Linked DNA regions of Homo sapiens. The protein of the gene in region 2 interacts with the protein of the main gene of each other region in a pairwise test. Each region holds a gene or a part of one and is shown on either strand. Other genes may lie near its edges.

Region 1 (8,249 bases), on a different chromosome or scaffold from region 2:
CCTCACTAAAATCTGATGTCTTATGTTCTATCCCTGATTTATACATTTATTATTTATCCCCTACCACTAAAATGTAAGCTCCAGGCTGGGTGTGGTGGCTCATGACTATAATCCCAACACTTTAGGAGGCCAAGGCAAGAGACTACTTGAGCCCAGGAGTTCAAGACCAAAATGGGCAACATATGGAGACCCCATCCCTACAAAAAATTTCATTTAAAAATTAGCCAGAATGGCCAGGCGCGGTGGCTCACGCCTGTAATCCCAGCATTTTGAGAGGCCGAGGTGGGCGGATCACAAGGTCAGGAGTTCGGGACCAGCCTGGCCAATATGGTGAAACCCTGCCTCTACTAAAAATAAAAAATTAGCCGGGCATGGTGGTGGGTGCTTGTAGTCCCAGCTACTCAGGAGGCTGAGGCGGGGGAAAAGCTTGAACCTGGGAGACGGAGGTTGCAGTGAGCCGAGATCGCGCTACTGCACTCCAGCCTGGGTGACAGAGCGAGACTCCATCTCAAAAAAAAAAAAAAAAAAAGTTAGCCAGGCATAGTGGTGTGTGCCTGTAGTCTCAGCTCCTCAGGAGGCTGAGGTGGGAGGACTGCTTGAGCCCAGGAGGTTGAGGCTGCAGTGAGCTGTGACCACACCACTGCACTCCAGCCTGGGTGACAGTGCAAGACCCTGTCCCAGAAAAAGAAATAAGCTGCACAAGAACAGATACCTCTATTTTATTCACTGCTATGTCCCAATGTACTTATGATAGTGCCTTGTAAATAGTGAACAATCAATAAGTATTTATTACATGAATAAGTGGTAGATGTTTTAGTTATCTATTACTTTACAATAAATTACCCTCCAAAACATGGTGGCTTAAAACAGCAAACATTTATTATTGCACAGTTTCTGTGGATGAAGAATCCAGGCATGACTTAGCTAGGTGACTCTGGCTTGGGGTCTTTTTTATTTTTTTTTTGAGATGTAGTCTCGCTCTGTCACCCAGAGCTGGAGTGCAGTGGCACGATCTCAGCTCACTACAACCGCCACCTCTCAGGATCAAGCGATTATCCTGCCTCAACCTCCCAAGTAGCTGGGACTACAGGTGCACACCACCACACCCAGGTAATTCTTCTATTTTTAGTAGAGACGGGGTTTCGCCATGTTGGCAAGGCAGGTCTCGAGTTCCTGACCTCAGGTGATCCACCCACCTTGGCCTCCCAAAGTGTTGGGATTACAGGCATGAGCCACGCACCCGGCCAGGGGCTTTCATGAAGTTGTAGTAAAGCTGTCTACTGCATTTGCATTCACCTCTAGGCTCAACTCTGCCTGGAGAATCTGCTTCCAAGATCACTCACACCGAAGATCTGCATCCAAGTTTACTGACAGACCTCGTTTTTAACCACATGGACATCACTACAGACTGCCTGAGTGTTCTCAGGATATGGTAGCTAGTGGTCCCAGGGAGAGGGAGAAAGCCAGAATCCCAAGAGAGAAGCCACAGTATTTTATAACCTAATCTTAGAAGTGACATCCCATCACTTTTGCTGTATTCTATTCAATAGCCCCCACTCAAGGGGAGGAAATTACACTAAGGGTATGCATACCAGGAGGGAGGGATAATTGGGGGCCATAATAAAGGCTGCCTACCACAGTACGCATGATAAAAATTTAAAAACATAAAACAAAAAAACTTGCCCTTTAGTTATATATTCTTTGGTATATTTATTTAAATATGATTCTATGATCATTATGCAATTATTCATCCCAATGCTAGTCTTTTCCATCTTACAAAATACCAAAGAGAATACATTAAATATTGAACATATCTTGTTAACCAGTGTCCATTAATGGTCATATTAGAGATAATACAACTAGCAAGGATAAGTCAACAAAAATAGCATCTGGAGAAAAAAAGACTTACTGGGTAAATCTTGCTAAGTAGATGACACTGACCTTTACTATTTAATCATTATAGGCATCATCTTTAGGAGACGGAATGGCACTTAATAAAAGATCAGCTTTTTATATTACAATTAAAGAAATAATAAAAATTCAAAGGTTACTTAGTAAGCTAGAGGATATATCAATCTACCGTTAAGAAATAAAAAGGTTGCCAAGCGCAGTGGCTCACACCTCTAATCCCAGCACTTTGGGAGGCCGAGGCGGGTAGATTACCTGAGGTCAGGAGTTCGAGACCAGCCTGACCAACATAGTGAAACCCTGTCTCTACTAAAATACAAAAATTAGCCAGGTGTGGTGGCACACGCCTGTAATCCCAGCTACTTGGGAGGCTGAGGCAGGAGAATCGCTTGAATCCGGGAGCTGAGATCCCATCACTGCACTCCAGCCTGGGTGACAGAGTGAGACTCCATCTCAAAAAAAAAAAAAAAAAAAGAAAAGAAAAGAAAGGAAAGAAGGAAGAAAAAGGTTTAAGGCTAATTACACATACCTGATTATCAGAATCAAACAGTGCATCACGGCTGAGTGTGTTGGCTCACACCTATAATCCCAACACTTTGGGAGGCCAAGTCAGGAGGATCTCTTGAGACCAGGCTGGGCAATATCATAAGATCATCTCAGCCTGGGCACAATGGCTCACACCTGTAATTCCAGCACTTTGGGAGGCCGAGGCAGGCGGATCATGAGGTCAGGAGTTTGAGACCAGCCTGGCCAATATGGTGAAACCCCGACTCTACTAAAAAATACAAAAATTAGCCGGGCATGGTAGCACACACCTATAGTCCCAGGTACTTGGGAGGCTGAGGCAGAAGAATTGCTTGAACCCGGGAGGCAGAGGTTGCAGTGAGCCGAGATCGCGCCACTGCACTACAGCCTGAGCAACAGAGTGAGACTCAATCTCGAAAAAAAAAAAAAAAAAATCCTGTCTCTAAGAAAAAATTTTAAAACTGGCGGGGCACGGTGGCATGCACCTGTAGTCCCAGCTACTCAGGAGGCTCAGGTGGGAGGACTGCTTGTGCCCGGGAGTTCAAGGTTAGAGTAAGCCATGATTGCCCCACTGCACTCCAGCCTGGGCAACAGAATGAGACAGAGGATAAAAAGATAACAATAAATCTTCAGAGAAGAAGATATCTTTAAAACCTCTTTCCTCTACCAGGCTTCTTATTCTTGGTCTCCTTTCCCTTAAGTAGCTCTCCTTTACTTTATTTACTTGGCAACAACTATTTCCAACCTAACACAATTATCTCAAGACTATCTAAATATAAAATATAATTTTATAGGCCAGGTGCGGTGGTTCATGCCTGTGATCTGAGCACTTTGGGAGGCCAAGGCGGGCGGACCAGGAGGTCAGGAGTTCGAAACCAGTCTAACCAACACGGTGAAACCCCGTGTCTACTAAAAATACAAAAATTAGCCAGGCGTGGTGGCACGTGCCTGTAATGCCAGCTACTTGGGAGGCTGAGGCAGGAGAATCGCTTCAACCTGGGAGGCAGAGGTTGCAGTGAGCCAAGATCATGCCATTGCACTCCAGCCTGGGTGACAGAGAGAGACTCCGTCTCAAAAAAAAAAAACAAAAAAAAAGTGTATATATATATATATATATATATAAAATTTCATAAATAAAATACTATTTACATTTTCACTGGAAAAACCACAAAGTATACTATGTGGATTTTCTTGCCTCCAAAAGCAATTGTGTTATTTCAAGTGTTGAGGATGCCAGAAAGCTTGAAGATTTAAAAATAACCTCACAAAGAGCTCATTTTCAACACCAGATGGAAAGAAATTACTCTAAAGACACATGTGTAGGAAGACAAATATACAATATCATATGATACCATGCAAAAGGTTTATATAATTACGTAATACCATCAAGACTGGAAAGACTGCAGGTAGTAAGCTGGCAACAGTGTCGATCCTCTGAATCATTAAAAAAAAGAGAAAAGGGCAAGAAACAGCAAGTGGGTGGTAGCAAAAAAAATTTTTTAAAGCCTTTACTTTAAGCTGCCTTCCATGTGTCCCTATCGCATGCTGAAATGGTAGGCAGGTAAAATTTGAGGGCTTAAATCCTTGGCACTCCTGAGAGTCCTGCCTGTGTCCATATGGCCAAAAACTGGGGAGGGAAGGGGGAATGGGATGAATTTCAACAATCTGTATGAAATGTATTATTAAGGTGAAACACTCTTCACTTGAATACATATAGAACTTCTAATTGGTAAATTAAAATATGTGCTTGGCATCTAAGTTAAAGCAGCATTTCTTTATAAGATAGGTTTAAAGATATGCCATTAAGATCCCATTGTGTTAAAATGATTTTAATAGGATTACTTAAGAGTATATGTAAGTACTAATAGCTGTATATCAATCACAACTAAACCTTGGCCTAATACTATGTATTCATAAATCACCAAAAATATACATTTCTATTACACGTATGGGTTACAGGCTTAAATTTAACCAATTCAAAACAACTCTATTAGCTAGATGTGATGGCACACACCTGTAGTCCCAGCTATTTAGGTGGCTGAGACAGGAGGATCACTTGAGCCCAGGGGTTCAACACCAACCTCAGCAACATAGAGAGACTCCCCATATAAATTTTTAAAAATTAAAATAGGCTGGGCGCCATGGCTCACACCTGTAATCCCAGCACTTTGGGAGGCCAAGGCAGGCAGATTTCTTGAGCCTAGGAGTTCAAGACCAGCCTGGTCAAGATGGCAAAACCCAGTCTCTAAAAATATAAAAAATCAGCCAGGTGTGGAGCCTGTAGCTCCAGCTACTCAGGAGGCTGAGGTGGGAAGATCACCTGAGCCTGGGAAGTTGAGGCTGTAATGAGCCATGATCGCACCACTGCACTCCAGCCTGGGTGACAGGAGTAAGACCCTGTCTCAAAAAATAAATAAATAAATAAATAAAAATAAAATAATCCTGTGCTCTAATATAGTTAAATCACGGGGAGTTTCTCACTTGAAACTTTTCTATCATAACTTTTTTATGATTTAATGCAGATATAACAAATATAATGCATGGGCAAAAGTTTTCTGAGTGAATATTAATGTAGAAAGTACCAAAACCTCAGTCTATGTTGTGTCCGGTGCTATGATTCAAACATATAGAGGGCCTACCAAAAGCTGATCTGCATTAGGGTGACTTTTGTGGAGGATGGAATCAGGTTGCATCTATAAATAACAATTAACTACAAGAGTACAGATTATATCCAATCTTATTTGATTATTTCCACCTATTTCCAAAAAAAGATGGAGGTGTTCCTGTCTCTATTAATAGATATTAGATAACAGAACAGAATTGTAGATATACATTGAATATAGAATTAGGTAATAGAAAATAATCTTAATAGAGCATCTATTGCTTCTTCCAATCTAATCAATATAAACTCACAGTCATATTTCTTATCCATTCCATCAGACAGATAATCTTGCCCCTTCCTACCCACCCTGCCAAAATTTCTTTAACCTTACCCAAGCTCTATTCCACATAGCTTAGAAACAATTTTAATCTCCACAAGCAGAGATCACCCTGAGAGTTGAGGGCCTAGATTAATTGGGTAGAACTGACTCAAAGAGTCATCAGCTACGGAAGAGGGAGAGCAGCAATTCAATAAACAATCACAGTTTAATCCACATAGATTTAACTTGGAGATAAGAGATAACTTGCAAAAAAGAGAACTGCTCTTAATTGCAATAATAAAATAATAAAAATAATAAAACAATAAATAATTTAAAAGCATGACGCCAGAATGTCTCTGGAATTTCTATATAGAAAGGACTTTTGGGCTGGATGCTGTGGCTCATGCCTGTAATCTCAGCACTCTCAGAGGCCAAGGCAGATGGATCACTTGAGATCAGGAGTTCAAGACCAGCCTGGCCAACATGGTGAAACCCCGTTTCTACCAAAGAATACAAAAATTAGCCGTGCATGCCTGTAGTCCCAGCTACTCAGGAGGCTGAGGCGGAAGAATCGCTTGAACCCGGGAGGCAGAGGTTGCAGTGAGCCGAGATCATGCCACTGCATTCCAGCCTAGGCAACAGAGCAAGACCCTGCCTCAAAAAAAAAAAAGAAAGAAAGGACTTTTAAGGATAGCAATTTGACTGGAAGGAGAGACAGAATATTTGGATATCAAGCTCCCAGTTCCTACCCAGATTGCATGTTTACTTAGGGTGACTTAGTGGGAAGCTGACGAAGCTAGCGGGTAGGGGATATTAAAGTCTCTTCAAGCTACTCCTTGAATTATACTGGCTGCTGTTCTCCAAAGTTCAAAGAGCTAGCCAATTTATTTTCAAATATTTTAAGTGGATACAATTCAATTTAAATAAAAAATCAGCAAAATAAGTATAAACAGACTTTCATCATAATCGGATTTTCCCAAAACCAATATTTGAAGCAAAGTGTCAGTAAGGTGGGTAGTTCTAAATGAGATCAGCACTCAATATAAAATATCAAAGTTCTCCTTTCTAACACCTCCAAGTTCTGAATACTCCTCACTGCTACAGCATTCTTCTTTATCTTTCTATGTATTCATTAAATAGCAGCAGAGTAAATCAAAATACTAATCTAACCCAGTGTGCACTCCAGAGTAAGTTATATTGCATTTGACTAAACACACCATGAACCCACTCTTAAAAAGGACGCACAGTAAAAGCCACCAGTGACATACCAAGAAACTTAAATGAACAACAAAAAATAACATACATTTGGCATCTGCCTCTCCTCTCCTCTAACTAAATGCTATGATAAATGCAATCAAGCAATTACTTTTTCTTTTTTCTCTTTGAGACAGAATTTCACTCTGTTGCCCAGGCTGGAATGCAGTGGTCTCAAACTCAAAGGCTCAAGTGATCCGTGGGCCTCGGCCTCCCAAAGTGCTGGGATTACAAGCATAAACCACTGCACCTAGCTAGCAATTACTTTTCAATAATTTTGGATCCTTCACATACATAAGGCCCATAACTGATTAATTCAGAGGCCATCTTTGGGGGCTTTATTTAGAGGAAAAAAACAAAGTTATTCATAAGAAAAGTTATTGGAATTATTGTTGTTTAGCTCACAAAATAAAGTGATTCCATGTTCAAGTAATTAAAGAAAAAATTCAAATATAGAGGTAGCAATGAATCCACATCTGAATATGCATTTAACCAAACACAAACTTGATGAAACTCAGAAAAATACAGGCCATTGGCTGGGTGTGGTGGTTCATGCCTGTAATCCCAGCACTTTGGGAGGCGGACGTGGGCAGATCACGAGGTCAAGAGATTGGAGACCATCCTGGCCAACATGGTGAAACCTCGTCTCTACTAAAAATACAAAAATTTAGCTGGGTGTGGTGGTGTGTGCCTGTAGTCCCAGCTACTCAGGAGGCTGAGACAGAAAAGACAAGAAAAACAAAAATACACTGGCAACACTTATGCTGTCCTGCCTCTTAGATAACAAGGAAACAGACTGTGGTCTACATCTATGCTCCTCTTGATTTCAGAACCAAACTCAGCCTCTCATGGCCACTGATATTCTAAAGTTATGAAATCAGATTAGCAATATGAAACTGGATTACTACATTAAAAAAAAGTAAGCAAACTCTATCATTCACACCAACAATTACACACCAGGCATGGTGGCTCATGTCTGTAATACAGACTAAGCTGGGCACAGTGACTCATGTCTGTAATCCCAGCACTTTTGGAAGCAGAGGTGAGACGATCATTTGAGCTCAGGAGTTTGAGACCAGCAGTTTGAGACCAGCCTGGGAAACAATAGCAGGACCCCGTGTTTTAAAAACGAAAAAAAAAAGCTGGGCATGGTGGTGCACGTCTGTAGTCCCAGCTGCTCAGGAGGCTCAGGTGGGAGAATCACTTGAACCCAGGAGTTCAAGGCGGCAGTGAGCCAGGATCATGCCACTGCCCTCCAGCTTGGGCAACAAGGTAAGATCCCTGTCTCTAAAAACATATGTATACAGGGCCAGGCACGGTGGCTCATGCCTGTAATCCCAGCACTTTGGAAGGCCGAGGCGGGTGGATCACGAGGTCAAGAAATCGAGACCATACTGACCAACATGGTGAAACCCCAACTCTACTAAAAATACAAAAGTTAGGTGGGCATGATGGCAAGCGCCTGTAATCCCAGCTACTTGGGAGCCTGAGCCAGGAGAATTGCTTAAATCCAGGAGGTGGAGGTTGCAGTGAGCTGAGATCATGCCACTGCACTCCAGCCTGTGTGACAGAGTAAGACTCCATCTCAAAATAAATAAATAAATACACACACACACATACACACACACACACACACAGAGA
Region 2 (5,397 bases):
ATGACTTTTTTTTTTTTTTTTGCCTTGTGCCTTTTGAAGTATGTGTTCATTCAGAGGCTGTTTTGATTCTCAGACTGAATCATTCAAACTCTGCCCTGTGTTTGTTTCTTGAATTTGGGGGTGACATCAAGTTTGAGTGAGTCCTCCCTCTGTCTTGTCTCACTCTGAGGTGCTGTCCCCAGGTGCTGTTCCACGTGGAAGAATCCACACCTCGTCGACAAATGGGTCTTCTCCACAGACCGGCGCTCTGTCACCAACTAAAGGCGAGGGGAGAACTTGCCCACCTGGCAGGCTCTTTAGCCCCAAGGTGGCCCGGAGTCCTCCTCCCTCCATGGGAGGCTTTTGGCCACCATGGCGGGTGGAGCCGCACCCACCCCATCTCCATGGGGAGGAGAGTCTTCCCCCAGGAATGCCCTCTCGGCCTCTATTTTTCTCCCATGTGCCTCCCTGGGAACGTCACCGTGAAGTGACTGGGACTGGCACCCAGTGTTCTGGGCACCAAGGTTCCCTGCCGGTGATGGGCCTAACTCCTAGTGCAAATGAATGAAAGTTTTCTTATAGTCATGCACCGAAGGTTTTTCACCTTGGCTTAATTCAAGTAGCTACATATATGGCATTCAGCCCATTGTTTCTCCTTTAGTTGGTAGTGCTGGCCCTGCCATATACCTAGCTGCCTGCTTGTATTTCTTTGGTCTTTGCACAGAGGCTGATCTCACACTACACTCAGCGTGGAATTAGCTTTTGTCTCGCAGAGCAGCTGTTTTAGATGGGAACCAAGGTGTCATGCTCTTGCCCTCAAGCATCTGCTTAGGGTTAAATGATGAACCGGCGGGGTGCTGAGATTTGGCAATGGTGGCTGCATCCTTAAGCAGGCCTTCAAGACTCCAGAGAGACATGAATTTATTCAGGTGAGGAAGGGAGCACACAGGAGACAGAGAGGACTCAGTTGGGCCACTCGAGACCCAGCCCAGTCTCTGCTTCCTCTGCCAACATCTTTGCTAAGCCTTCAGCCAGAACAGCTATGGTCTGCGAAGATTAAGTAAAGAAAAATAGCAGCTCCTCCTCCTCCTTGTCCATCAGTGTGTGCTCAGACTGTTGTTTGATCCTGTGGGCTGGGGGTCGTGAGCGGCATACCAGTGTCCTGCCTCTCTGCAGGGGAAACAAGCCCAGTGAGCCTTGCTGCCTAGTGAGCCGTATGCCCATATACCCCTGCCCCTGGTGCAGGGAGAGGCCCAGCAGCTCCAGTCACCTCCAGGCCACTCTGGTCAGCCCTGCAGGCTGAGGGCTGGAGTTAACTCTGAAATAACTGGGGGTGTGAGTCTGCCTGGCATTTATCAAGCCTGGTCTCTGGAGCACCACCTATTAGATGTGGGGGCAGAGGGACCTGCTTCCTGTTGCCAGGGTCAGAAGGCAGGAAGGGTGGGGGCCTTGGGACACAGCAGTAGGGGGACCCCAGTGACGGGCAGTGAGCAGGGCTTGGGGTCTGGCCGGAGTGTGGGTAGGGTGGTGGGACCCTGCTCCTGAGCAGAGTGTACCTGGCTGGGGTGGGTGGGCATGGCTGAACCAGGCTCAGCCTGGCATGGGCCATGGGCTGGCAGCCTGGGGAAGAGCCCCCTGCAGGAAGCAGGTCCTGGGAGAGGCCTTGCTCCGAAGGCAGCCTGTCTCCCTCAGAGCCTCATTGAATGCCTTCAGAGTGGTAGCATCAGGGGCTTGGGCTGCAGGACCTCAGCTGCCATGCTGTCTTGGGACCCCCTCCAGCAGAGACCCCCCAAGGCGACCCTGCCTACCTTCTTCTTGATCTCAGCCTGGGCGCGCGCCCGGGCCCGCTGCAGATGCTCCTCCTGTAGGATCTTTTGCATCTGGAGCTTCTCTTCTCGAAGTCTGGGTGGCAAGAAATGACATTGAAAACTGGGGGGACCTGGAAGGTGTTGTGTAATCTCCACACGGAGTCCCCAGGCCAGGCCGTGTCCTCCCTCAAGAAAACTCCCAGCTCCTCTTCACCTCTTTTGCCAGGTCAAGTTCTCAATACCTATCCACAGCCAAAGCACCGCTGCTTTTGGCCAAGGTGGCCTAGGCCCAGAGGAGGACAACCAGGGCCCTGCTGCTCCGAGGCCCTGGCTCTGGCCTCCTGCAAGGGCTGAATCTAAGGTTCATCCAGCAGACCCCTCCCAGAGGCACATTTCTCTGAATCTACACCCATGGCCTGATCTGTGCACCTGTGGCCTCCCTTGCCACCATGAAGGCCAGCATCCCCCTGGGGCGAGAGTCCTGTCTCCTTCCTATATATACTCTCAGTCATCAAAGCCTGGTCTAGTGCCCACTCTGAGCAGGGTACCAGGGACCCAGAGGAGAAGCCCCTGTGCTTGGGGGGACGGATGGATGTTTGCAGATTGCGCTGTCTCAGAGCCCTGCACGGGGTGGATGAACCGGGCTGCCCACAGGCCAGGGAAGCCACAACCCCCATCTACCTTGGGTTCAGGCTGGTGTCCCGACAGATAGCAAGCTGCTGCCCATCTGCCCCCCTCCACTCCCCTCTGAGCTGAAACTCCCAAGGCTCTCTGAGCCTCTGCACTTTGTCTTCCGCTCCAGCAACACTGCTGTAGCCATGCCTTCTCTCCTGGGTGCTGGCAGCTGCCCTTGCCCTCAGCCTCCAGCCCCTCCAGTCCAGCCCCAGAGGGAAGAATCTAACCACACCCTACCTGGCCGTGTTTGCCCCACTGCTTAAAGCCCTCCACTGCTGTTCCATGTATTTGAGGCTGACCGTGCTAGCCACACTCTAACTAAGCTCCAGCTCTTCTATCTTCTAGACCCTGTCCCTCCCTGAGCCTCCTGGCCACATCGAGTCACTGTCGTTTGCTCTAGGAAGCTTTCCCTAACCACCCCCCACTTGACTGTGATGCCCCTCTAGATCCCCCCAAGACATGGGCTTTTGTCTCTCATAGCACAGAGCAGGAGGGGCCTGTCTCCTGGGAGTGCTTTGAGGGTGGGGCCTGTATGTGCCCTCTGCCCTCAGGGCCAGCCAGGACACAGCAGCTGGCAGGGAGAGCCTAGAGCTCACCTGATGCGCCGCTCCTTCTCCTTTGCCCTCTCGGCCTGCTCGATCTTGACCTGGGGCACGTGCTCCAGGTTCTCTAGCAGCTCATCCAGCTGGTGCTCAATGATGGTCAGCATCTGCACGGTGCCCAGGTTGGCCTCCTGCTGGGTGCCGGTGCAGTGCCGGTACACATCCAGCACCTTGCAGTTCAGGCTCTCTAGCAGCTTATCCTGTGGAGGAGGTGGCTTCCAGCAGGGTGCTGGCAGGCGGAAACCCACCCCCATGCCAGTGCCTTCAGCGGTGGCCTGCTGACCTCCCAGGGTGGGGGCCACCGCTTGGCACACAGTGGGAGCTCTGAGAACATGGGCTAAAACAGAACTTGGGGAACTGGCTTTTCTTGGCCAGAGCAGCCTATCCCCCGGGCCCCCTGGAGTCAGCCAGATCCCTGGTTCCAGCCCCTCTCCCAGCTGCCTCTGGTGAGCCAACGGGGCCCAGTCCCCTCCTCCAGGGAACCCTGCACCCTGGGCACCCCACAGGGCTATGTCTTCTCTGAGACTGTTCTGACACTTAGAAAACAGATAACAGCCCCTCCATGTGGGCTATATGAGGAGAGAGGAGCAGCAGGCAGGCAGCTCAGCCCAGCCTGGGCACAGCCAGTGCCCATGGATTCTGGCTGTATCGGGAGCGCTGTCTTGCTCATGGCTGCATCCCACACCCTTGGCCCTGTGCCTGGCACACAGCAGGCACTTGACAGTAGGAAGCCATCCCATGCCCGGGGTGGCCCCAGGCTGTCAGGTTGGGAGCGGGCTGAGCCTTTGTCTGGGTCCTGGCTTCTGCTGCTCAGAACACCACTGGCTTTCTCTTCTCTCCCAATTCTCTCACCCTCTCAGCCTGGCTTGAGGACACGCCTCTTCCCCCCCTTCAGGATCACCTTGCCAGACACAATATATGTGTTTAAGAAGCAGACACATTTGTTGAATAAAAGAATGAAGCAATGGATGAGGCGTGGGGGCAACCAAGCTGGCTGGCACAGGCATCAATACATGTGGTGGCTCCTGGAGGGAGGCAGGGCAAGGGCAGCTGCAGGGCACTCACCCGGGCCTTGTCCTCCATCTTCCCAAGGGCTGTCAGGGCTCCTCCAGTGGGTGCCCAAGGGTCCCTCCTTACCCTGGGCCTCTGGCCACCTTGATCCCCAGCCTACCTGCTGATCGCCCTTGTACTCGCCGAAGTGGAAGACTCGGGCTTTGAGCTCCAGCTCAGCTGCTGTGTCCTCCTCCTTGGTGATGGACATCATCATTGTGGTGACCCACTGCTTCAGCTGGTTGACCTCCCTGTCCCTGGAAGAGGGGAAAACCGGCAGGGCATCAGTCACTCAGCACAGCCCTGGGCACATCGCTTCTCTGAGCCTGTCTGTACAGTGCTTTGCCCCTACCAGCTGTCCTGAGGGCTGAAGGATCATGGGTGCCAAGTCTCTGCATGCCCAGGGGGTCAGAAATGCTGGTAGAATGTAGGGGAAAATGTAAAATATTTAACAATCAACATTAAAGAAAATAAACAGCTTCATTGAGGCATAATTCACAGACAATAAAATTAGCATAACCATCATAAAATATACAAGTCAGTAATTTTTTATATATTCAAGGAGTTTACACAACCATGACCATAATCTAATTTTAGAACATTTTCATCACCCTGTGCCCATTAACAGTCACTCCTCATTGTCCCCTCTATCCTTTGGTCTTAAGCCACCATGAATCTACTTTGTGTCTACCCTGAACACTTCATAAAAATGGAGTCACACAACATGTTTTCTTTTGTGACTCGCTGCTTTCACCCAGCATATTTTCAAGGTCCCTCCATGTTGCAGCATGTGTCAGCACTTCATTTCTTTTTATAGCTGAGTAATCTTCCATTGCATACGTAGGCCACACTTTGTTGATCCATTCATCCATTGATGGGCATTTGGGTTGTTTCCACCTTTTGGCTCTTGGGAATATTGCTGCTATGAACATTCATGTGCAGGTTTTTGTGAGGACATGTTTTCAATTCTCACGAATATATATCTAGGAGCAGAATTTCAACATTCACCTTTCTTTTTTCCTTTTTTTTTTTTTTTTTTTTTTGAGACGGAGTCTTGCTCAGTCGCCCAGGCTGGGTGGAGTGCAGTGTCACAATCTCGGCTCACTGCAAGCTCCGCCTCCCGGGTTCACACCATTCTCCTGCCTCAGCCTCCTGAGTAGCTGGAACTACAGGCACCCGCCACCACGCCCGGCTAATTTTTGTATTTTCAGTAGAGACGGGGTTTCACTGTGTTAGCCAGGATGGTCTCGATCTCCTGACCTTGTGATCCTCCTGCCTCAGCC
Region 3 (8,299 bases), on a different chromosome or scaffold from region 2:
TATCTCCAGAGAGGTTAGGTGCCCTCCTGGGAGCTCCCAGCCCTCTGCGTTTACTCCAAGCTGATGGCGCTGGGTTGTCATAGGTGTGCCTAGCAACGTCACGAAGGTGTAACTCTAAGCAGGAAGAAAATAAACTTCCTCGTGGCAGATTTTACATGCACCTGGAGGCTTGAGGATGGGAAAATGAAACCATCCCTGTAAACCTCATGCAATTAATCAGAGAACAGAGAGGAGAAATGGAAACAAGCCAGGCTTGCAGCACACCCAGCGCTGATCATGAGGTCAGCTGCCCCCTGATCTGCTTCCTCTTAGTTGTCTGGTGCCTGCTGTTCTAGAATCACGTAGACCTGGTTACAAGATCATAGTTCCCCTTAACTGCACTAGAGATAGCAACTTGAACGTTATGAAACATTAAATGTTACTTTTGAGAAATTCCTTCAGGTCCTGCGTGCCGGTGAAGCGACTGACTCCGCCAGCCTGAAGGACCCCACCAGGAGCTAACTCCCCAAAAATGTCTTTTTCACATCATGATGATTTCATTTCCCTTGCTCTGACCAATGACCCCAATTTTCTAGCCTCTCACCCTCCATAATCCCCTTAAAAGCCCCATCCCAGAATTCCCTGGGGAGATGCATTCGCAGGTCTCCTCCTATCCCCTTGCACAGTGCCCTGTGATCATGAAACTCTCTCTACTGCATCCCTGCTGTCCAGTGTAATAGGGCTGTGACAGGGCAGCAGGCATACAAATCTGCTGTTCCTGTAACAAAAAGCACACCTCTACGTCTAGATGGAGCCACGTCTAGAGCCCTGCAGATCCATGCTAGAGGGGTTCCAGCAGGCTGGAGTACAATGGCGTGATCTCGGCTCACTGCAACCTCTGCCTCCTGGGTTCAAGAGATTCTTCCGCCTCAGCCTCCCGAGTATCTTGAATTACAGGTGCATGCCTCCACGCCCAGCTAATTTTTGTATTTTTAGTAAAGACGGAGTTTCACCATGTTGGCCAAGCTGGTCTTGAACTCCTGACCTGGTGATCCACCCGCCTCGGCCTCCCAAAGTGCTGGGATTACAGGCGTGAACTACCGCGCCTGGCCCTTTTTTTTGTTTTGTTTTGTTTTTTGAGATGGAGTCTCGCTCTGTCGCCCAGGCTGGAGTGCAGTGGCGCGATCTGGGCTCACTGCAAGCTCCGCCTTCCGGGTTCATGCCATTCTCCAGCCTCAGCCTCCCCAGCAGCTGGGACTACAGGTGCCCGCCACCACACCCGGCTAATTTTTGTATTTTTAGTAGAGACGGGGTTTCACCATGTTGGCCAGGCTGGTCTCCAACTCCTGACCTCAGGTGACCCACCCAACCTCGTCGGCCTCCCAAAGTGCTGGGATTACAGGCGTGAGCCACCATGCCCTTCCTCCTTCTCTCATAGGCTTCTTTCTTCCAGCACCTGTAAGATCAAGGCCAGGGAGACCTCCTTCCCTGGCTCCATCTGGGACAATCACAGTGTTTCTGTGGTCCCCTGTGAGGCTACAATTCGCCTCTCAGTTCCTGCATTGCAGAGCAGGTGGAAGCTGAGCAAGCAACACTGATCTTAGCAGAGCCTCATGTATTCAACTAGACATTTACTGAGCTCAGACTGAGTGCCAGGCATTGAGGATACAATATGGCAGGCAAGATTCCTGCCCCGAGAATAATGATAATTAAAATAGCAAGCATTTATTGCACACTGATTATCTTCTAGGCACTGCGCTAAGCATTTTTTTTTTTTTTTGAGACCGGGTCTCACTCTGTCGTCCAGGCTGGAGTGCAGTGGCGCGATCTTAGCTCACCGCAACCTCTGCCTCCTGGGTTCAAGCGATTCTACTGCCTCAGCCTGCTGAGTAGCTGGGATTACAGGCACACACCACCACGCCTAGGTAATTTTTGTATTTTTAGTAGAGACGGGGTTTCACCATTTTAGCTAGGCTGGTCTCGAACTCCTGATCTCGTGATCCACCCACCTCGGCCTCCCAAAGTGCTGGGATTACAGGTGTGAGCTACCGTGCCCGGCCCCAACCTTCTTTTCTTTTTCTTTTTCGAGTGCAGTGGCACGATCATAGCTCACCGCAGCCTCAAACTCCTGACCTCAAGTGATCCTTCCACCTCAGCCTTTCAAAACAGTGGGATTGCAGGTGTGCCTCACCTTATCCAGCCTAGGTGCCATTAATCCCACTGTATAGACGAGTAAACAAACATGCAGACTAAGCTTGTCTAAGAGCACACAGCTAACTAGGGGGCAGAACCAAGCTTTAGACCTGAGAAGCCCTGTTCCAGAGCCTACTCCTTTAACCATTAACTAAACTAAACCAACGGTTGCATGCCAGTGGGGACAAATAATGGTAAAGCAAACAAATAAAAAAGATACTGGCCAGGTGGCTCACGCCTGTAATCCCAGCACTTTGGGAGGCCGAGGCGGGCAGATCACCTGAGGTCAGGAGTTCGAGACCAGCCTGGCCAACGTGGTGAAACCCCGTCTCTACTAAAAATATAAAAATTAGCCGGGCGTGGTGGCACAAGCCTGTAATCCCAGCTACTCAGGAGGCTGAGGCAGGAGAATCACTTGAACCCAGGAGGCGGAGGTTGCAGTGAGCCGAGATCATACCACTGCACTCCAGCCTGGTGACAGAGTGAGACTCTGTCTCAAAACAAAAACAAACAAACCAACAAAAAAAGGATGGAGTCTTGCTCTATTGCCCAAGCTGGCCTTGAACTCCCAGCTTCAAGCAATCCTCCCAGCTTACCCTCCCAGAGCCCTGGAATTACAGGCATGAGCTACCGCACTAGGCCAATCTTTGCTTAATTTAAGATTATTTTCCTCTTTCTCTGATCACCTGGTCTGTTATTATTGGCCCAATCCTGTTTTCATTCAAGTATCCTGTCTTCACTTTCATTTCCTGGGTGTTAAGGAACTCATACATCATCCAAATCTGGGAAAACAAAGGCTAAATTCAATTCCGGCTCAGGCAAGGGAGAAACACAAGCAGAAGTTCAGCTTTTTGTGTTTTTGTTTTTGTTTTCAGACACAGTCTCATTCTGTTGCTGAGGCTGGAGTGCAGTGGCTCGATCTCAGCTCACCACAACCTCTCCCTCCCAGGTTCAAGCGATTCTCCTGCCTCAGCCTCCTGAGTAGCTGGGATTACAGGCACTTGCCACCACACCAGGCTAATTTTTGTATTTTTAGTAGAGATGGGATTTCGCCATGTTGGCCAGGCTGGTCTTGAACTCCTGACCTCAGGTGATCCACCCACTTTGTGGATCTCCCAAAGTGCTGGGACTACAGGCATAAGCCACCACGCTCGGCCTCATTGTGTCTTCTGCCTCAGTACATCCATATTTTGAAATACATATTATTTTATTATAATTTGTTTTTGAGACAGGGTCTCCCTCTGTCACCGGGCACTGTAGCATGTGTCTTTCAAACATTATCTCATTTGATCCTCTCCCCAACTCTAGGAAGAAGATACAATTATTATCATCCTTATTTTACAGAATTGGAAACCAAGGCACAGAGAGGTGAAGGGACTCGCCCAAGGTCACACGGAAAGTGGTGGGTCAGGGGATTGAACTGAGGGCAACTGGCTCCAGACCCTGAACTCTCCAACCCTCTGCCACCCTCCTCCTAGGTGAGGGAGATTACATTACTGGGGACCCTGTTTCAGGATATTAAGGGGTTTTCCAAGATGTTTCTCATAGAAAAAAGAAAAAAAAGGGTGTGGCTCATGCCTGTAATCCCAGCACTTTGGGAGGCCGAGGCAGGCAGATGACTTGAGGTCAGGAGTTCAAGATCAGCCTGTCCAACATGGTGAAACCCCATCTCTACTAAAAATACAAAAATTAGCCAGGCATGGTGGCAGATGTCTATAATCCCAGCTATTCGGGAGGCTGAGCCAGGAGAATTGCTTGAACCTGGGAGGAGGAGGTTGCAGGTTGCAGTGAGCCAAGATCACACCACTGCACTCCAGCCGGGCGACAGAGACTCCATTTCAAAAAAAAAAAAGAAGACAAGCAAGATGTTGAGTGTGACTGGGTGGAAGCCACTGACTTGTCCCTGGCACAAGTGTGCTGATATCCCTTCCCCCTCCTTCCTCACGTCCTGCATCTCAGCGAGAATTGGGGTGCCGGGGTTAGCTGTGTGGCCGTCATCCCAGGCCCAGGTGAAGCCCTCGATCAGGTGAGGCCATGATCCCAACGAGTGTTTTAGCCCAGATCCTGCCTCTTCCCTGCTTTCTGCCGAGAAGCGGGACCTCCTCTATGGAAAATATCCAGCTGGGTGAGCCTGGGAGGGAGGAGGTGAGTTGGGCTGGACTCAGGGACCGACTCTTCCCGTCTCATGACTGTGTTTACTGGGCTGGATTTTGGGAAGGGGCCAGATTGCATCAGACAGGGCCTGATGGGCTGGAGCCAGACTGTGGTCTGAGGAGGAGACACAGCCTTATAAGCTGAGGGAGTGGAGAGGCCCGGGGCCAGGAAAGCAGAGACAGACAAAGCGTTAGGAGAAGAAGAGAGGCAGGGAAGACAAGCCAGGCACGATGGCCACCTTCCCACCAGCAACCAGCGCCCCCCAGCAGCCCCCAGGCCCGGAGGACGAGGACTCCAGCCTGGATGAATCTGACCTCTATAGCCTGGCCCATTCCTACCTCGGTAAGGCCCACTCAGCCATCTCCACGGTCCTTCCTCCTCTCCCGAAATCAGGACCCACCCCTCTTGTTTCCTCTCATTTCCTTTCCTTTCCTCTTCGTTTCTTTCTTTCTTTTTTTTTGAGAGAGTCACTCTGTCACCCAGGCTGGAGTGCAGTAGTGTGATCACAACAACTCAAACAACTCACCGCAGCCTCGAACTCCTGGGCTCAAGTGATCCTCCTGCTTCAGCCTCCTGAGTGGCTGGAACTTCAGGTGTACACCACCTGCAGTGGTGAGATGGGGTCTCACTATGTTTCCCAGGCTGATCCCAAATTCCTGGGCTCAAGCAATTCTCCTGCCTTGGCCTCCCAAAGTGCTGAGATTACAGGAGTGAGCCACCCTGCCCAGCCCACTCACCCTTTTCTAGCCAACCTGTTCCTTGGACCCTCACGTCACCCCTGTCTAATCCCTTATCCCAGGAGTGCTATGTTACTCAGCCTGGGACCTCACACACATCTGGGGTCCCACATTCCACAGAGGGGAAGCAGCAGGCTTCTCCCTGCTCTTCCCATCCCCACAACCCTGAACCCCTGCCTCTCCTCTGACAGGGCCTCTCATCATGCCTATGCCCACTTCACCTCTGACTCCTGCCTTGGTTACAGGAGGTGGAGGCCGGAAAGGTCGCACCAAGAGAGAAGCTGCTGCCAACACCAACCGCCCCAGCCCTGGCGGGCACGAGAGGAAACTGGTGACCAAGCTGCAGAATTCAGAGAGGAAGAAGCGAGGGGCACGGCGCTGAGACAGAGCTGGAGGTAAGGAGTCGGGGGGCCCAGAGAGCTCAAGGTGGTGCTTCTGCCATGAAGGACAGGCCGGAAGGTGTGTGATTGGGTGGGGAGGAGGGATCAGGCAACTGTTGTCTTGATGCAGAATAAAACGAGACATATGTTTGATTGTGAGTTTCCTAGTGGCCAGAGCAAAGTGGGAACACAGAACCTTTCCAATTGAAGGGAAATTTGACTTACAGAGACAGAAATTGAGGATAGAGAGGGTGGGTCCTTCCCTGGAGTCACAAATCAAGTGAGTGGGAGAGGCAGAATTAGAACCCAGATCTCTGTCCCTTTTACCACCTGCTTTTCCTCACCCCCCAGATGAGGCCAGACCATGGACACTACACCCAGCAATAGAGACGGGACTGCGGAGGAAGGAGGACCCAGGACAGGATCCAGGCCGGCTTGCCACACCCCCCACCCCTAGGACTTATTCCCGCTGACTGAGTCTCTGAGGGGCTACCAGGAAAGCGCCTCCAACCCTAGCAAAAGTGCAAGATGGGGAGTGAGAGGCTGGGAATGGAGGGGCAGAGCCAGGAAGATCCCCCAGAAAAGAAAGCTACAGAAGAAACTGGGGCTCCTCCAGGGTGGCAGCAACAATAAATAGACACGCACGGCAGCCACAGCTTGGGTGTGTGTTCATCCTTGTTCTTTGTGTGTTTTTGTTCGGGCATGTGTGTGCTTGCCTGTGCCTGCACATTCATGAGCCTGAGAGAGCATCTTTGATGTGTATTTGTGTTTGGTGTATGTATCTGGGGCAGGGAGTGTTCCTGCTCTTGCAGGGTCTACGCTGTGAATGCAGCTTTTGGTTTGTTTGCTTTTGCTTGCATATATTTTAGTGCATACATTTCTGTGGGCTCCTACGTAGTGGAAAGGAATTTCTTCTGCTTTTTTGCGATACTGCCCATGAAACACGGCCCTCCCCAGCACCTGTTTTTGTTGATTGTGTCCTGTTCATAGACGGGAACGCTACTTATGAGTGCCATCTAAAAGTCAGAGAAAACTGAGATTTAAAATATTAAAAGCCAGGGCCGGGGGCAGTGGCTCACGCCTGTAATCCCAGCACTTTGGGAGGCCGAGGTGGGTGGATCACAAAGTCAGGAGTTCAAGACCAGCCTGACCAACATGGTGAAACCCCATCTCCACTAAAAATACCAAAAATTAGCCAAGCATGGTGGCAGGTGCCTGTAATCCCAGCTGCTCAGGAGGCTGAGGCAGTAGAATCGCTTGAACCCAGGAGGTAGAGGTTGCAGTGAGCCGACATCGTGCCATTGCACTCCAGCCTGGGTGACAGAGGGAGACTCTGTCTCAAAACAAACAAACAAACAAAAACTAAAGTCTGGGAGCAGTGGCTCATGCCTGTAATCACAGCAGTTTAGGAGGCCGAAGTGGGAGGATTACTTGAGCCTAGGAGTTTGAGACCAGCCTGAGCATCATAGTAAGACCCCATCTCTACAATTTTTTTTTTGAGACAGAGTCTCACTCTGTTGCTCAGGTTAGAGTGCAGTGGCACCATCTTGGCTCACTGCAACCTCTGCCTCCCGGGTTCAAGCAATTCTCGTGCCTACGCCCCCTGAGTAGCTGGGATTACAGGTGAGCACCACCACGCCTGGCTAATTTTTGTTTTTTTGTTTTTTTGATACAGAGTCTCACTCTGTTGCTCAGGCTGGAGTGCAGTGGCATGATCGCAGCTCACTGCAACCTCCGCCTCCTGGGTTCAAGCTATTCTCCTGCTTCAGCCTCCTGAGTAGCTGGGACTACAGGCACCTGCCACCATGCCTGGCTAATTTTTGTATTTTTAGTAGAAACAGAGTTTCACCATGTTGGCCAGGATGGTCTCAATCTCTTGACCTCATGATCCACCCACCTTGGCCTCCCAAAGTGCTGGGATTACAGGCGTCAGCCACCACGCCTGGCCAATTTTTGTATTTTTAGTAGAGATGGGGTTTCATCATGTTGGCCAGGCTGGTCTCAAACTCCTGGCCTCAAATGATCTGCCCACCTCAGCCTTCCAGCCTTTGGGAGGCCAAGGAGGGAGGATCGCTTGAGGCCAGGAGTTCGAGACCAGCCTAGGCAACATACCAAGGCCCTGTCTCTACAAAAATTTAAAAATTAGCAAAGCATGGTGGCTCATGCCTGTAGTCCTAGTTGCTCAGAGGCTGAAGTTGGAGGATCCCTTGAACCCAGTTGGAGGCTACAGTAAGCCATGATGGTGCCACTGCACTGCAGCCTGAGCAATAGAGTGAAACCATGTATTGAAAAAGAAAGAAAGAAAGAAAGAGAAAAAGAAGGAAGGAAGGAAAAGAAAGGAAGGAAGAAAGAAAAGAAAGAGAGAAAGGAGAGAAAAAGAAGAAAGAGAGAGAAAGAGAAGAAAGAAAGAAAGAAAGAAAGAAAGAAAGAAAGAAAGAAAGAAAGAAAGGAAGGAAGGAAAGAAAGAAAGAAAGAAGGAAAGAAAGAAAGAAAGAAAGAAAGAAAGAAAGAAAGAAAAGAGCGAGCCCCGGCACAGTGGCTCACACCTGTAATCCCAGCACTTTGGGAGGCCAAGGCAGGCGGATCACCTGAGGTCAGTAGTTCGAGTTCGAGGCAGAAGTTGTGGTGAGCCAAGATCACGCCATTGCACTCCAGCCTGGGCAACAAGAGCAAAACTCCATCTCAAAAAAAGAAAAAGAGAGAGAAAGAAAGAGAGAAGGAGGGAAAGAAAGAGGAAGGAAAGGAGGGAGGGAAGGAGGGAAGGAGGAAAGGAGGGAAGGAAATATTAAGGGATTTGCCCTAGCTCACTCAGGGCTCATATTCAGGGATCTTATTGTCTTCAGATATGAGGTGGGT

What was found.
Region 1: the proteins of CFAP100 (region 2) and EPB41 interact in binary tests that used the Homo sapiens proteins (3 or more experiments, as listed by UniProt).
Region 3: the proteins of CFAP100 (region 2) and NUPR1 interact in binary tests that used the Homo sapiens proteins (3 or more experiments, as listed by UniProt).

The regions. Positions count from the first base shown.
Region 1 is NC_000001.11:28,917,245-28,925,493, reverse strand, and holds part of EPB41 (protein 4.1), read right to left. Parts: intron 1-8,249. UniProt on the Homo sapiens protein: Protein 4.1 is a major structural element of the erythrocyte membrane skeleton. It plays a key role in regulating membrane physical properties of mechanical stability and deformability by stabilizing spectrin-actin interaction. Recruits DLG1 to membranes.
Region 2 is NC_000003.12:126,432,043-126,437,439, reverse strand, and holds the end of CFAP100 (cilia- and flagella-associated protein 100), read right to left. Parts: intron 4,645-5,397; exon of another isoform or gene 4,372-4,644; coding exon 4,236-4,371; coding exon of another isoform or gene 3,697-4,235; exon of another isoform or gene 3,265-3,696; coding exon 3,059-3,264; intron 1,882-3,058; coding exon 1,788-1,881; intron 1,150-1,787; coding exon 1,036-1,149; 3' UTR 884-1,035; downstream 1-883. Other genes in the region: uncharacterized protein LOC124906280, read left to right, coding at 3,697-4,242. UniProt on the Homo sapiens protein: May play a role in ciliary/flagellar motility by regulating the assembly and the activity of axonemal inner dynein arm.
Region 3 is NC_000016.10:28,535,165-28,543,463, reverse strand, and holds the start of NUPR1 (nuclear protein 1), read left to right. Parts: upstream 1-4,489; 5' UTR 4,490-4,556; coding exon 4,557-4,668; intron 4,669-5,254; coding exon of another isoform or gene 5,255-5,308; coding exon 5,309-5,445; 3' UTR 5,446-5,458; intron 5,459-5,794; 3' UTR 5,795-8,299. UniProt on the Homo sapiens protein: Transcription regulator that converts stress signals into a program of gene expression that empowers cells with resistance to the stress induced by a change in their microenvironment.